Regions from separate parts of the Homo sapiens genome. Here region 2 is linked to region 1. The links come from fine-mapping of genetic effects on gene expression. Tissue or cell type: cerebellar hemisphere. Region 1 holds a variant in brackets; the other region holds the start of a gene. All regions are shown on one strand. Distances are from middle to middle.

What was found. PIP is the estimated chance that this variant, and not a neighbour inherited with it, causes the effect.
Region 2: it holds the start of SYCE1L, and the variant in region 1 is the best candidate, but not a certain one, in a credible set for the expression of SYCE1L in cerebellar hemisphere (GTEx, PIP 0.75).

Annotation. Positions count from the first base shown.
Region 1 is chr16:77,227,658-77,233,039 of GRCh38, reverse strand. No RefSeq gene overlaps it. Among named protein-coding and RNA genes, the nearest start is that of SYCE1L, 31 kb to the right of the region's middle. RefSeq lists a cis regulatory region at 2,284 and an enhancer at 2,200-2,369. The variant C/A (reference allele first, on the strand shown) is at 2,720.
Region 2 is chr16:77,196,128-77,201,509 of GRCh38, reverse strand. It overlaps SYCE1L (synaptonemal complex central element protein 1 like), which reads right to left and starts at 2,102. Exons shown (of 11, transcript NM_001129979.3): 1 at 1,998-2,102. The coding sequence starts at 2,058. It overlaps MON1B (MON1 vesicular trafficking associated B), which reads right to left. Exons shown (of 6, transcript NM_014940.4): 6 at 1-3,402. The coding sequence ends at 3,202. RefSeq lists an enhancer at 4,281-4,450.

The DNA of each region.
Region 1 (5,382 bases):
CACCGTGTTAGCCAGGATGGTCTCAAACTACTGACCTCGTGATCGCCCGCCTTGGCCTCCCAAAGTGCTGGGATTACAGGCGTGAGCCACCGTGCCCGGCCTTACGTATACTTTTTAATGAAGCTATGTATTTTCATTTCTCTTGGGTAAATACCACGGAGGGGAATTTCTGAGTCATGGTAAATATGTGTTTAAATTTAGAAGAAACTACCCGTTTTTCAAAGTGTTTGCACCACTTTGTGCTTCTACCAGCGATGTTTGAGTGTTCCGGTTATTTTACAACCTCCCCACAATGTGTATTAATATTTTTACACATTAGTGAGCCTGTAATGGTATCTCTTTGTGTCTTTTAACATTTTTTATTATAATAACATCTATTTGCTTATAAAAGAAAGATGTACTTAGTGTATTTCAAAAACACAGAGAAGTAGAAAAAAGGAAAAAAGTAGCAATTGTCATTATTTCATAACTATAGCACTCTAGGAGGCTAAGACGGGCAGATCACCTGAGGTGAGGAGTTTGAGACCAGCTTGCCCAACATGGTGAAGCCCCGTCTCTACTAAAGACACAAAAAATTAGCCAGGCTTGGTGACGGGTGCCTGTAATCCCAGCTACTCGGGAGGCTGAGGCAGGAGAATCACTTCAACCTGGGAGGGAGAGGTTACAGTGAGCCAAGATGGCACCACCATACTCCAGCCTGGGTGACAAGAGTGAAACTCCATCTGGAAAAAAAAAAAATAGTTTATTTCCTTTTCATTATTTTGCTGTTATTTTTACATATTTATAATTCTGCATAAGCAGTCTTGATTCTTGCTGTTTATATTTTAAAGAATTCTCATTTTTGAAATTTATTCTTTCAAGAGTTTTTTATATATTATAGATATTAAATCTTTATCCATAATATATGTAACATATTTTTGAACATTTATGGTATTTCTTTCCATGCAAATTTTTTTATGTAGTCAAAGTTATCACCTCTGGGTTTTGAGTCATAGCCAGAAAGCCTTTTCCTACATCAGAATAAAGAGAAATTCACCCGTGTTTCCATCTAGCACTTGTATGCTTTCATATTATTACATTAGATCCTTTATTTGCTTGTTCTTGTGGTGGATGGTGAGACATGGGCCTAATTTTAACTTTTTCCAAATAATGATTTAGGTATGGAGCTATTCAGATTTTCTATTTCCTCCTGCATCAGTTTAAGGGATTTGCATATTTCAAGAAATTTGTCCATCTCATCTAAATGTTTTAATTTGCTCTCCGAAGTCATTTAGCTCACAAACACACACACTTTTATTGTTCTTTTAATGTCTATAAGACCTATAATGACACAATGGGAAAAGACCATACCCGAATGACTGATGCTTATGCAATAACATTAAGCAGAGGGCCTGCCACTAAGCACGTGAGTGATTACATTTTATTTTTAAATTTCATAATCTTCAGATGCCTGCAAGTGAATTGAGCAAAATTACATTTGACGACATGACTGTTGGGAATGATAGCACCATGTAGTGCTGTTGATAGAGGGAGATGATTTTTTAAAAATCATGGTGAGTTGGTTAGATGCTCCAAAGATGTTCTCCTCTTACAGCAATTACTCAGTAACTTGTTATACTTATTATTGAGATAATATGAAAATTAATAAGGTATAACCTCATTTCTTAGAATGTAAGCTCTCAGCCAGCACACGAAGGTGTATAACATCAATGATCATACTTCATCTAGACATGGTATAAGTAGTTTGATGATGAAACACAGAGGAAACAGAGGTTGCTCTCAGAGAGGTCAAGGAAGGCTATGTGATAAAGGGGCACTTAAAAATGAATAGCTTCTGGTGTTTGAAGATAAAATACAATCAGAGTAAACACCATGCAGGGAGAAAAGTCATATTCGAAAAGAAATCTTGCCTTGCATGAGTTGCGGGTGGACAGGGAGGGGTCCAGAATGGTGAGAGGTAGTAGTGGGATGTATGGCTGGAAAGGTAGGTTCACATAAGACCATTAGAGAGGGACTTGCATTCTGGAATAAAGTTTTCGGATTTGACCCTGTAGTTCATGGGAAACCAGAGAAGTAAAGAGCTATAAGTGAATTAGTTCTGACTACAATGTGACTGACAAATGGAAATGAACAAGGCTAGAGGCAGAGTGGGAAATGAAGTTCTCCCGTAGCCATGTAAGTGGCAATGCCAATCTGAGCTAGGATATTGGCGCTCCAGAAAACACAAAGATGGACGTGAGAACACAGCCGGCAGATATGAGGAAATAAGCAATAGGAATTTAACACAGTATTATAAGTTCTATTTCAAAATTTCAAAAATACTTGCCTTTGCAATGCAAACTGAAAGAGCCACAATAAAAATATCAATTTTCTTCACAGCAGGACACCTGGGCAATGTCCGGAATGAATGAGCTTCAGTGAACCATTCTAATGGCAACCCTAGTTCAGCAAAATGAACAAAGGACTGTGAAGGGTGATCGGAAGCCAGTAATTCCTGGATCCTTTCATGGAAAAGGGCCTTTGGAATTTTAAAAGTGACATATCAGGCCAGGCGCAGTGGCTCACGCCTGTAATCCCAGCACTTTGGGAGGCCGAGGCGGGCAGATCCCCTGAGGTCGGGAGTTCGAGACCAGCCTGACCACCATGGAGAAACCCTGTCCCTACTAAAAAAAAAAAAAAAAAAAAAAAAAAAAAATTAGCCATGCATGGTGGCACAAGC[C/A]TGTAATCCCAGCTATTCCAGAGGCTGAGGCAGGAGAATTGCTTGAACCTGGGAGGTGGAGGTTGCGGTGAGCCGAGATTGTGCCACTGCACTCCAGCCTGAGCAACAAGAGTGAAATTCTGTCTCAAAGAAAAGAAAACAAAAGTGACATATCAGAGCTAAAGAGCCATCAATTTAATTTAAAAATTTGAAATGGATGATGTGGATTTGTTAGAGAAGTCTCGCCGTGGTCTAGCTCGTGAATAATTTTATAGCATGGAGGTCGTTAGTATATTTTGGTAATTGTTTTTCAGCTTCATTTTTGTAGAAACCAACTATTCAAGGGCCCTCAGGCTTAAAGGGAATTAAAATAGGGTATAAGGTAAAGGTCATTACTCTGTAAAGCTATAGCTTCCATTGACTCAAATGGAAAATGTCATTCCCCTAAAGACAGTCAGAGGACTCTCATATGATATAGTGGAAGGTATATAGATTTTGGATCCAGGTGGGCCTCCTTTGACTTATTTGAGCTGTTTTTTGACCTTGAACAAAACACAGAATCTCTCAGAAATTAGGTTTCCTCCCCCATCTATTAAAAAAAAAGGGGGGAAAAGACTGGGCGTGGTGGCTCATGCCAGTAATCCTAGCACTTTAGGAGGCCAAGGCAGGGTGATTACCTGAGGTCAGGAGTTCGAGACCAGTCTGGCCAACCTGGTGAAACCCCATCTCTACTAAAAATACAAAAATTAGCCAGGCGTGATGGTGTGCACCTGTAATCCCAGCTACTCAGGAGGCTGAAGCAGGAGAATTGCTTGAATCCAGGAGGCGGATGTGCAGTGAGCCGAGATCACGCCACTGCACTCCAGCCTGGGCAACAAGAACAAAACTCTGTTTCAAAAAAAAGGGTGGTGGGGAAATGGCAAACAATGCACACAATTCTTGGTAGAATTAAATAATGTGAAACAACATCAGTCCAAGTCACATCATAAAACTATTTCATGCTTATAATTGTACCAAAAAAATTTTATAAGTCCCTATAGTATCTGTGCAAGCCTCATTTTCATTTGTTTCTTTCACTGTGTGGTTGCCAATCAGGCTTTTCTTTCTCTCAAATATACAAATATCCTTTCTGCCTAATGCTGTTAATTCTGTTTAGAATTACCCCGTCTCCCATATACCCACCTCCTTTAGTCTTTAGGTCTCAGATTAAATGTCACCATGTTCAGAGGATCTTACTGATTTCTCTAAATTAGACTAGACTCCTGTGATCTCACTGGTAGTGCCCTGCAGTTCTTCAAAACCCTTCTCATAAAGTCATCACATCATTCTTTATGTAATTATTTGCTGATGGTCTTTCTTCCCTGTTAGCTCATTGAGGGCTAGAACAGAATCCTTCCTCATTACAGTAGTTCTAGTAGTGCCTAGTGCACTCACTGCCACGTTGCTGGTGGTTAAGTATTTGTTGAATGAAAGAATAAATGAATGAGTACAGTTCAGTAGCCAGACCTCTTATTTATTTGAACAATTGAAACGGAAGACAAGCCACATGGGAAGATGCTGAGCTGAGATTTTGCAGCTGACTGCTGGAGCTGACTCTGAAATGGAGATCAGCATTCTGAATGTTGATTAGGGACTGATCTTGGGATCAACTCCCATGGAAGAGAAAGAAAGGGAAAGAAAGGAAGCAGGATTGAGCAGAGGGAGAAATTTCAATGGAAGCATTAGCCACCCTCATGGAGAGTTTTAAGATGGGTTGGCCATTCCAAGCCACCCCATGTTCAGCCACGAGGGTCAGGCCTTCATGACCCGTGGGCTTTTTTACACTTCTAAGCCAAATGGTTATTGCATGTGGCCTCCCCCAAGAAGAGGCATAACTTTAATGGAGTTGACCCTTGCTGAGGGGGTTCTTGAAGGGGACTGACACTGAGGGCAGCTTTCCAGCAGCAGCAGTACTGCTAGCAGCTGCAGGAATAAGCCCTCTGTTCCCAAAGTGGGATCCAGGTGGTGCAGTGCAACATTCACCCTGACTGACAGCATTTCGGTACAGATGTTCTCTATCAGGTATCCAGGGGGGCTTGACTTGGCATTGGGTTTGGTAGCAGGGACTTCAAGCTCTCTCTCCCACACTGGCTGCTGGTGACTTTAGCCAGAGACCGTAAAAAGTACCCATTCATGAAATATACTTTTGTGGCTTCTATCTGGGTTACAACCCATGAGGAAGCAACAACAATGCAGAGCTGGAAGGGAACAGAGTTCAGAATAAAGCGTGGCATGGTTGTGAAGATCAATAGACTTGAGTTTAAATGCAGTATTAGCTATGAGAACTACAGAAGGCTGCAAAACTTCTCAGAGCCTCAGCCCCCTCATGGGCAAGAGGATGACTCAAAGTGTTAGTAAGAGTCTGTAACACAGCAGGTACTTTCCATATATGAATTCCCTTTCTACACTCCCCCCCGCCCAACACACACATGAACTTCAATCAGGCCTTTACCTTAACATCCCAACCATCATCCATACTGGCTCTGGCACGCTCGTTACCTGCTGCTTTCCCTGTTGGATTGCCTCTGGTTATGGAGCTTGCCCCATCCAACGTGGCTGCTGATTCTACTGCTGGACAGTGGTATCTGTTAGCAAGTCCTCATTTGCCTCTCTGGTTCCTTTATCCCATGATATATGCTCAGATA
Region 2 (5,382 bases), 32 kb after region 1:
TCCCTGAGGCAGGAAAAGGCCTGTTTCTCTACAAGGTCGTCAATACCAGATACTATGCTTCCCTTTATAAAGCCGATTTGATGGGCTAGAAATGGCAACTTGATACATCCTTCAATTTTTCCTTTGCTGGTGAAGTTAGTCATAACTTTAATTTTGAGGAATTTGAAAGGTTGATACTAAAATTTTTTTTTTAATTGCAGTGGCAGCTGCATTACACAGTTAATAAATGAGATCTATTTGCATCTGTCTTATTTCCGTCTGTCTTTTGTTGAATGCTGGCACTTAGTATGTGCCTCTAATCTAAAAGAGCTCTCTGCTCTTGAAGTTATTTCATTGGTCACACATTAAAAAATTACTGAGCACTTACTTTACACCAAGCAGGCATTGTTTTAGGTGCAGGGGAGCGAGAGGTAAACAGTCTCTGTTCTCATGGAGCTCACATCCTAGGTCAGGCAATAAGCAATAATCATTACTTTGATGTCTGTATGGGTAGGTCTGGCAGGATGCAGTCTAATGTGTTTGTTAATACAGTGGTTTAAAGAGTGTGCAGAAAGGGGTGTTCGAGATAGATAAAAGTGGGGCAGAAAGGTGACAACAGTTAAAGCATACTGATAGGTACACATGGGCTTTGTTTAAAGCTATTTTCTCTACGTTGGTACACTTTGAATATTTCTATAACAAAAAAATGCTAGTGGCATACAAATGCATGACTGCCTTGGGAGATTTTTTTCTTTTTGTTTTTTCTTTTTTTTTTTTTTTTTTTGCTCACTCTGTCTTCCGCGCTGGAGTGCAGTGGCGCAATGTCAGCTCACGATAACCTCTGCCTCCCGGGTTCAAGCAATTCCCCTGCCTCAGCCTCCCCAGTAGCTGGGACTACAGGCGCCCGCCACCACACCCGGACAATTTTTGTATTTTTAGTAGAGACGAGGTTTCGCCATGCTGGCCAGGCTGGTCTCAAACTCCTGACCTCAGGTGACCCACCCGCCTCGGCCTTCCAAAGTGCTGGGATTACAGGCATAAGCCACCAAGCCCGGCCAAGGGAGAATTTTTTTTCTTTTGAGACGGAGTCTCACTCTGTCACCCAGGCTGGAGTGCAGTGACATGATCTCGGCTCACTGCAACCTCCGCCTCTCGGGTTCAAGTGATTCTCCTGCCTCAGCTTCCTGAGTAGCTGCGATTACAGGCCCACACCACCGCGCCCGGCTGATTAGTGTGTGTATATATATATATATATACACATATATATATATATACACATATACATATATATATATATACACACACATACATACATACATATAAATACACATACACACATATGTATATGTATATATAGTTTTTTAGTAGAGATGGTGTTTCACCATGTTGGTCAGGCTGGCCTCGAACTCCTAACCTCGTGATCCGCCCGCCTCGGCCTCCCAAAGTGCTGGGATTACAGGCGTGAGCCTCCGTGCCCGGCCTGAGATTTTTTTTTCTTTTGGATGGAATACAATTTCCAATAGTGTCTAGGCCGACACCCCTCCACCCTCCTTTGCCTGTCATTCAAGTCAATACCCTGGAGAAAAGAGGCTGTGGGGGAGGCCATGTTCGATTAGGAGGTTTAAGAGTCCATCAAAGTGTCATATGTGTTAGGTGTGAAATGGCGACACTGGGAATTACTGTTAATAAGGGGTGGCTGCAGCACGGTGATTGTTATGAGAACATCCCCACCGCCCCACTTTTGTTTGAAGACTTTCGTACTGAACTACATGTTGTTTACTTTCAACAACGTATACACTACAGTTGACAAAAGTTAATCTCGGTGATAAGAATATGCCTGTTAATTTATCTCCACTGTGCTGAACGGTTAAAAAATTGTTTTTCTTCAATAACAAAAGGCTTAACATTTTATTTAAAAAAATTAGAATATCATTATTTCATTATTGTAATGGGACGAATCCTCCCTCCTTTCTGCCCTGGTTGGAGAGAAAGGAGTGCAGCCCACTTGCCCTCACTACCTTCAGCCTCCTCAGTAGCTTCTGGCGCCTCCACATTCAGAGGTTTCAGCTTCCCCGCCATTTTCCAACGCGGGGCCTGCGCGCGAGCCTCGCTTGATGACTGGTTAAAAAAGAAACCACGTGAGGGTGAAAGGCTTTTCAGCACGCATGCGTGCAACCCGCGGTTACGCCAGCGGTTAAATCAGGAGTCAGCTCTGGGCAGGCGCAGAACACACTGCGGCCCTGATTGCCAGCACACATGCTACAACCTTGAGGCTGTAACTCCACAAACAAGGGCAGAACTAGGGTAATGGCCAGTTGGGGAGTGAGGGTAGTGTGCACACACACAAAACCCTAGGGAGGTCTCTCCTGCTTTAGGCTGCTTGTCTTGTGCAGGTTGTCAAAGTCTGGGACAGACGTGCATGTGCTATGTGGTGGTACACAATAGTTCGAGTCTGTTTTCGTTTACAAATCCTCATCAAAGAGTTCATGAGAGAGGGTTACTTATCTCTGTTTCACAGATGAGTAAAACGAGGCTTAGAGGCTAAGTGCATCTCCTATGTAAAAATGCTGGATTTCAGCCACTGTGTGCAGTCAGGTGCTGTGTCCTGGGTTCCACAGGTGGACACTGAAGGCCACCTTCTCATTAATGTTAGCAGCAGCCAGCATTGAGGGCGGGTCATTTCTGGCAGGGTAAAGATGAAAAAAGTACAAGAAGGGCAAAGGAATATCCTTGTGGGTCTTACTTTTAGGCCTTTTATGTAGTTTTTTTCTTTAAAATACCCTCAGGCCAGTCCCAAGCATAGCCTGGCCCTGAAGTGCCAATTCCAGCACCCCCGTGGGCCACCCTAGACACCTTGGCCAGATCTGGACACTCAGGGCTGAGATTCAACTAGGAGGCAGACCACGGAAGCAAGTTTGGAGGGGACAGTCCCTGACAGAGGCTAGAGCATCATCCAAGTGGAGGAGATGAGACAGAGGGAAGGGAGAGGGAGGCCTAAGGATTTCCCCAGAGGGGGAGGTGCATGACTGGGCAGGGAAAGCAGCCTGCTCGCCTGGCGGCTGCCACCATCTCTCTCATCGGTGGGCCCTCAGACCTTGCCCCATTGCTTAGGGAGACAATGACTGGCCACAGACACACCCCCACACACATTTCCAGGGTAGACAGAAGGTAAAAAACAAAGGTGGTTGCTCCCAGCACTGCCTGGTCTGGGAGCTCCAACTATCAGAGTCCAGTGAACAAGCCATTATGGGCAGCTTGGTCCGTAGAGGTGGCTGGTGGTGTGGAGTACTTGGGTGGGTAACGAATGAAGAGCCGGTCCTCCTCTTTCTTCACCCAGCGCAGGAGTTTGGTCACTACCAAGATTGCACCTGCCTTGGTCACCAGAGGGCTGAGGCAGGTATAGAGCTCGAATTTGGAGGTCACCTGGGGGTTTCGGAGGAGACAGAGTCAGATGGGCCAGAGCTGGCTATGGACAATCCTGCCTACCCCAGTGCAGCTGCATGTCTGCCTCCTGCAACCTGGAACATGTACCTGGCAGCACCTCCTACCAGGTGCTGCCTAGATACTGGGCTAAGGTAGGTAAGCTGATATTGTGCAATTTCAGCTGGACCTAGTGACTTCAACTGGATGATGCTGGTTGTGTGTGTGGGTACTCTCTAGACCTGTTTGCTCATTGGGAACTGGGGAAAACAGTAACAATGTTTAATATTCTGTCAGTAACCTATTGTGTACAAGGTCCTGCTCTAAGCTCCTACAACTATGTTTTCATCATCTACAGCCAGGGAATAATATAAAGAGGAACTCAATTTATGCCTCATACCACATGGAGAGGCCTGACCCCACAAGGTCACTAGCGCCTTTCCTGTGCCACCTCCCAGAGCGCTCCCCTTCACTCCCTCTGCTCCGGCCACTCTACCCTTTCCTTGCTATTCCTCAAACATAGCCAGGCTTGGTTCCACCTCATAGCATATCAGTCCTTTCCCTCTGCCAGGTGTACTCTTCCTCCTAATATCCACGTAGCTCAATACCTCCCTACTCCACTCAGATGCCATCTGCTCAGGGAGGCCACCCTGATCACTTGGTTTAAAATTCTGCTCCTAACATATATTTTGTTTGTTTTTGTTTTTTTGTTTTTGACGTAGAGTCTTACTCTGTTACCCAGGCTGGAGTGCAGTGGCACGGTCTCGGCTCACTGCAACCTCCGCCTGCCAGGTTCAAGCGATTCTCCTGCCTCAGCCTCCCGAGTAGCTGGGATACAAGCGCATGCCACCACATCCAGCTAATTTTTTGTATTTTTAGTAGAGATGGGGTTCCACCCTGTTGGCCAGGCTGGTCTCGAACTCCTGACCTTGTGACTCGCCGCCCACTCCCCCCAACTCCCACCCCGACTCAGCCTCCCAAAGTGCTGGGATTATAGGCGTGAGGCACCGTGTCTGGCCCATATCTTGGTTTTAAAATTCCAATCTCTACTAAAAGGTATAAGGGCTCCATGGAAAAATGGCTGAGTTGAGGACTGGAATAGAGAAAGTCAAGTAAGATGTGCTCACATAGTGAAGGGGACGTGTCAGAGACACAGGGATCAGCCTGGCTAAATCAGGGTACCCACCGGCTAAATCAGAGGCAATCTGAACACCAAAATAAATGCTAGAGAAGGATTTTAGCTCACTGAATTAAAGAAAAATCCATGAGACAATATTGATAGAAAATTAAAAATTCAATAAATAGGAGAAGGAAAAGTTATTCCTTTTTGTTTTTGAAATGGAGTCTTACTCTGTCGCCCAGGCTGGAGTGCAGTGGCGCGATCTTGGCTCACGGCAACCTCCACCTCCCAGGTTCAAGCGATTCTCCTGCCTCAGCCTTATGAATAGCTGGGACTACAGGTGCGCACCACCACGCCCAGCTAATTTTTGTATTTTTAGTAGAGACGGGGTTTTGCCATGTTTGCCAGGCTGGTCTCGAACTCCTGACCTCAAGTGATCAGCCTGCCTCAGCCTCCCAAAGTGCTGGGATTACAGGCGTGAGCCATCACGTCCGGCCCCATGTTACTCTTTATAGTAAAATCCCAGCCAATAAATGTAGAAAGAATGATGGAGTTAGGAAAACCACCATCTGACCAGGCGTGGTTTTCACCACGCCCTTTATAACTCTTTATAAATATAAATATAAAAACTCTTTATATTGTTTTTGCAGCTTCTAAGTCTAAAGTTATTTGAAAATGAAAGTTAAAAAAATTTAAAAACAAAATTCTTAGCCTAGGACAATACCTGATCCACAGCAGTCACGCAATAAATTAATAAATATGCATTACATGGCAGGTGCCATTTCTGATGAGGCCTCCTTCACTGGCCTCCCTTAGTAGCTGACCTTTAGCAAACCCATAGGAAGTGAGGGCTGGAGCCCAGA